Linked DNA regions of Homo sapiens: region 1 is linked to region 2. The links come from fine-mapping of genetic effects on gene expression. A gene starts in region 2. The other region holds a variant in brackets. All regions are shown on one strand. Distances are from middle to middle.

Evidence for each region.
Region 1: its variant is fine-mapped to the expression of ZNF641 in whole blood (INTERVAL, PIP above 0.99).

What each region holds. Positions count from the first base shown.
Region 1 is chr12:48,269,516-48,272,434 of GRCh38, forward strand. No RefSeq gene overlaps it. Among named protein-coding and RNA genes, the nearest start is that of H1-7, 58 kb to the right of the region's middle. The variant G/C (reference allele first, on the strand shown) is at 1,427.
Region 2 is chr12:48,349,840-48,352,758 of GRCh38, forward strand. ZNF641 (zinc finger protein 641) reads right to left here and starts at 1,080. Exons shown (of 6, transcript NM_001172681.2): 1 at 947-1,080. RefSeq lists enhancers at 591-660, 1,099-1,835 and silencers at 801-1,230, 1,511-1,590.

The DNA of each region.
Region 1 (2,919 bases), 80 kb before region 2:
ATTGTTGAATAATATTCCACTGTAAAGATGTACCACAGTCTGTTCATCCATTGACCTACTGAATGACATCTTGGTTGCTTCCAAGTTTGGATAGTTGTGAAAAAAAGCTGCTATAAACATTTGTGTGCAGTTTTCATCTCATTCAGTAGATACCAAGGACTGTGACTGCTGGATCATATGGTAAGAGCATGTTTAGTTTTGTAAGAAATTGCCAAACTGGATTCCAAAATGGTTGTACAATTTTGCATTCCCATCAGCCATAAATGAGACTTCTCATTGCTCCACATCCTTGCTAGCATTTGTGTTGCCAATATTTGGGATTTTAGCCATCCTAATAGGTATGCAGTTGTATCACACTGATGTTTTAATTTGCAATTCCCTAATGATAGATGATTGAACATCTTTTCATACACACATTTTCCATTTGCATGTCTTCTTTGGTGAGGAGTCTGCTCAGATTTTTGTCCACTGTTTGATTAGGTTGTTGTTTTCTTATTGTTGAGTTATAAACATTTTTGTATATTTTGGACACCAGTCCCATAACAGATACATGTTTTGCAAATATTTTCTTGCAGTCTATGGCTGGTTTTATTCTCTGAGCATTGGCTTTCACAAAAGCACAAGTTTTTAATTTTAGTGAAATACAACTTAGCTTTTTCTTTTATGCATCATGCTGTTGGTGGTGTTATCTAAAAAGTCATTGTCAAAGCTAAGGTCACCTAGATTTTCTTCTATATTATTTCTAGTATTTTTATAGTTTTTAATTTTATATTTAGGTCTATAATGTATTTGAGTTAATTGTTGTGAAAGGTGTAAAATCTATGTGTAGATTCATTTCTTTGCATGTGGATGTCTAATTTTTTTCAGCACTATTTGTTGAAAAGAATATCCTTTCTTTGTTTAATTGCCTTTGCTCCTTTGTCAAAGATCAATTGACTATATTTGTATGGGTTTATGTCTGGGCTCACTATTCCATTCCATTAGCCTATTTCTTTCTTTCTTTTTTTTGCCAATACCACACTTCTAATTATTATAGTTTTATATTAAGTCTTTTTTTTTTTAAGTTCCAGGGTACATGTGCAGGATGTGCAGGTTTGTTACATAGGTAAATAAACATGTGCCATGGTGGTCTGCTGCACCTATCAACCCATCAGGTAGGTATTAAGCCCCACATGCTTTAGCTCTTTTCCCTAATGCTCTCCCCCTATATTGAGCTTTGAAGCTGGGGAGTGTCAGTTCTCCAATTTTGTTCTCCTTCAATATTGTGTTGGCTATTTTGGGTCTTTTGCCTTTCTGTATAAACTGAAGAATCCGTTTTTTATACTTGCAAAATAACCTGCTGTGTTCTTTTTTTCAAAATTGTTTTGGATACTTTAGTTCATTTGCATTGCCAAATACATTTTAGAATTCGTTTTCTGATTTCTAC[G/C]AAAATTTGTCTAGTATCTTTATGGAGATTGTTTTGAATCTATATATCAGTGAGGGAGAAAGGATATTTTAACAATATTTAGTTTTCCAATTCATGAACACAATATATCTTTTCACTTATTTATGTCTCCTTTGATTTCTTTTTTTCTTTGTAGTTTTTATCATAAAGGTATTGTAGATGTCTTGTTAGACACAATTTTGGACATTGACGTTGCTGAACTGACTTATTTTGCAGATTCTCTGTCAACAACCATGTCATCTGTGAATAGAGACAGCTTTCATTATGTCTTTCTCTCTCTCTCTTTTTTTTTTTTTTTTTTTTTCTGAAACGGAGTCTCGCACTGTCGCCTGGTCTGGAGCGCAGTGGCGCTATCTCGGCTCACTTCAATCTCCGCCTCCCAGGCTCAAGCGGTTCTCCTGCCTCAGCCTCCCGAGTACCTGGGATTACAGGTGCCCGCCACTACACCTGGCTAATTTTTTGTATTTTTAGTAGAGAGGGGTTTCTCTATGTTGGCCAGGCTGGTCTCAAACTCCTGACCTTGTGATCCACCTGCCTCGGCCTCCCAAAGTGCTGGGATTATAGGCGTGAGCCACTGCGCGCGGCCTCATTTATTTCTCTCTAATCTGTATCCCTTTTCTTCCTCCCTCTGCCCACCTTCTCTCTTTGTCACTCATTTCTTTCTTTTCTTTTTATTCCTTTTTTTCTTTTGGCATTATTTTACAGGCTAGACCTTCTGTATAATGTTGAATAAGAGTGGTGATAACAGATATTTTTGCCTTTTCTCAGTCTTAGGATAAAAAGATTTGGTCCATCATTATTAAATACACTATTTTAAGGTACTCTTAGAATATCTACTACTGCAGATTTTTTAAGGTATTCTTTTTCAGTTCAGAAAGGTTTCCTTCTATACATAGTTTCCAAGAGGTTTGGTAATAAATGGGTGTGGAATTTTTCTGCCTACTTTTGTATTTAACTTTTTTTTTTTTTTTGAGTCAAAGTCTCGCTCTGTTGCTCAGGCTGGAGTGCAGTGGCGCGATCTCGGCTCACTGCAAGCTCCGCCTCCCGGGTTCAGGCCATTCTCCTGTCTCCTGCCTCAGCCTCCCGAGTAGCTGGGACTACTGGCGCCTGCCACCACGCCCGGCTAATTTTTTGTATTTTTAATAGAGACAGGGTTTCACCATGTTAGCCAGGATGGTCTTAATCTCCTGACCTCCTGATCCGCCTGCCTTGGCCTCCCAAAGTGCTGGGATTATAGGCGTGAGCCACCACGACCAGCCGTATTAAACTTTTTTAAATGATTTCATTTTATCTTCACTATTGGCTTATCATTTATACATCTTTACAGTTTTTAAGTGGCTGCCCTAGAATTTTTTTTATTATTATTATACTTTAAGTTCTAGGGTACATGAGCAGAACGTGCAGTTTTGTTACATGGGTATACATGTTCTGTTTATGTGATGGATTATGGTTATTGATTTGCATATGTTGAACCA
Region 2 (2,919 bases):
GCAAATCCTCCCTGAAGGCTTTACCTCTAGCTACATATCTGGACACTTGTCTCAAACCCTTTCTCCATCTCCCCCAGGTAGCAGAGTCTCTTAATGGGAAGCCTCTTTGTGCAGAGCCCATTGGGCCAGCTGTAAGTTTTTCTATACCACTGACAGAAATCCGTGGAAGTGCTAGCAAAAATCTCAGCAAAGGATGGGATGGGTACCTGTCCTCAGCTTGCATTTCCTAAGATATTCACGCAGAGCCAGCACCTGGGCGGTTAAGGTGGTAGCCCTAACCTCGTTTCTCCTGGTTCCAGGATGATCCCATGCCCACTGCAGTGTGGGTTCTAGGGCTTTCATTTCCCCCTTTTCTTCACACATATGGGTAGCAAGGGACCTGCAAAAGGAAGTTTCTGCAGCCAGTGCTGATGAACAGAAAAGGGGCCATGTTATAAAAATGAGTAGCCCAAGGGCACACGGACGAGTTGGCTCCGTCCATCAGAGAACCCTGGCCCCTGCCACGGGTAGGGCATGGGCGGGACGGGAGCCTGCTCAGGGGTAAGGTTGCTTCTTCCCTTCTTCTTGTCACAGTGCCCCTGGAAAGGGTCAGATTTCAGAGAATCCGAGCAAGGCAGAACTGGAGCAGGGGAAGTGAGGTCAGAAAACAGGTTTCCCATGAGCTGGGGCATGAGCAAGTGAAGAGAAAGGGAGCCACGGGGTAACCTGTGCGCGAGTGACAGCGGCGGGAGCCCGCAGGGCCTGACAGTTGCGATGGGCACGGGGAGACAGGGCGAGAGGCGGGCACAGAATGTCAGCGGGGCAGACCCCCGGGAAAGGCAGCAACCCGGAAGACGCGCCGATCCTCCTCCCAGCCCCTATGGGTGACCGAGCCCCCACCAGCCGCCCCGGGAAGCCAGGCGTCCCTCCCTCCAGCCGCAGCTCCCTCCGGCCCGGCTCCACTCACCCCCGGTAGGCTTGGCCCGCGGCCCGGTGCCTCCCTCCCGGGCGCCGCCTGCCCCTCCCCTCCGCCCTCCGCTTGCGTCTGGGAGCCGGCGGCCGGCGGAGCCAGCGACAGGCGGAGACGGCGGCCCGGCAGGCGCGGGCGGGGCGGGGCGGGCACAGGAAATCCCCGCCCGCTTCCGGGGCTCTGCGGCGGCGGAGGTGCGGGGAGTGGGAGGGAGAGGAGTGGGAGGGAGAGGAGTGGGAGGGAGGGAGGGAGGGAGGGACGGGAGGGGGCGGGGCTGCGGCTCAGGCGCCCCCAAACGCGAACCCGGGACCTCCGCGCCCGCCGCTGTGGGGAGGGTGCGGCCCGAGACGCTTGGAGGGCGGCGGGCGCCGGAATCGCAGCCTGCTGTGGCCACTTGCCCGCACTCTTGCCTGACTGACCATTTTCCGCTCTGGCTACTGGGCCTCCCACGGAGTTCTGTCCTCAGGGTTCGTCAATTACCTGGAATTGCGTAACCGCCCGTTACAGGCCAGACCGAGGCCGAGAGCGATTTCTCCAGACAACAGTCTGGAATTCCTCAAGGAGCGTACCCTCTAGTTTTCACGATAGGATAAAGGGCTTGAGAGAGCACTGAGGAGGAGTCACTTATTCTGCCTGAGGGGAAGTCAGGTTGCTATCTGAAGTTGGCCTTGCGGCTGCTGTCCCATTTGCGGGAGCCGTAGCCGCAGGTGACACCTGAGCTCTCGAAATGTGGCTGGTCTGAATAGAGATGTGTTCCAAGATTTAGAAGATTTAATTTAAAAAGTGATATTTTGGGTATATTGGGTTAAATATATTAAAATTAATTTCACCTGGTTTTAACTTTTTAAATGTGGCTATAAATATGGCTTGCATTATATTTCTATTGGATAGTGCTACCTTGCAGCATTAAGATGGATTTGACTAGAAAAGATGAGAAGGGCCTACAAACAGTGAGTAAACCCATTGCTGTTAGAATCTGTTTATAACCTACAAGTCACATTCACATTCCTTATTTCATCATTACAACAATTTTCAAAAATTTTATTTAGTAGACTTAAAAAATAATTGACTCACTTAAGGTCATATGTGACAATCATTCGTTTAATGCATATTTATTTTCTACGTGTGCCAGACACTGTAACTAAATGCTGGGAGTTAAAGGATTCACAGTCTGGGGAAGCACATGTCAACAAATATTTGCAATAAAAACGTAGATTCTAAAACAGAGGAACGTACGCTGCACTTGAAGCAAAGAGAAGTGACCACGTATGGGACGGAGGTCAGAGAAGGCCCCCCACTCTGACAGAAATCGTGAGGCAGAGAAGAGTCAGGAGGGCTGTCTAATGAAAGAGGAAAATGCAGTAGACACGCAGTTGGGAAGAGTATAGAGCATATTCTAGGAGCAGATCATGGGATATGTCGGGGTAGTAGTAGAGCCAGAATTTTTATCCCGGGTCCTGGAACTAAGTCCAGGGGTTCTTTTCACTTATGCTACCACTGGTGGTAAATATAAGGTGCGTTAATTGGAGTAGGCTAGCAAAACCAGTATCTCGGGGCTTAACTCCATAAAGGCTTATGTTCATACAAGTCACAGTGTGGTAACAAGTTGGTTGGGGCCAGAGGGTGGGGTCTGTACTTCTTGAATTCATTGAAGGACCAGGCTTCTTGCATTTGGTGGTTCTCCCATGCCGAGGCCTTGGTAATGTAGTCAAATCTGTGGCCCTCAGATAAGGGAGGCTGGCCGTGGTTAACTTGTCAGAGATATTAGGGGCCAGTCCTGGAAGTGGTGTGTATCATTTTCACCCCATTCCCTTAGCCAGAACTCATGCGCATGGTCACATGGCCCTACCCAGAAGGGTGGCTGGGAAGTAAAGAATGTGTGCCTCATGGAAAAGGAAATGGGCGCTGCTGGACACAGCATTGCCTCGTCACACAGAGTTAAATTGAACATAACCAAGTACGTAAACCTG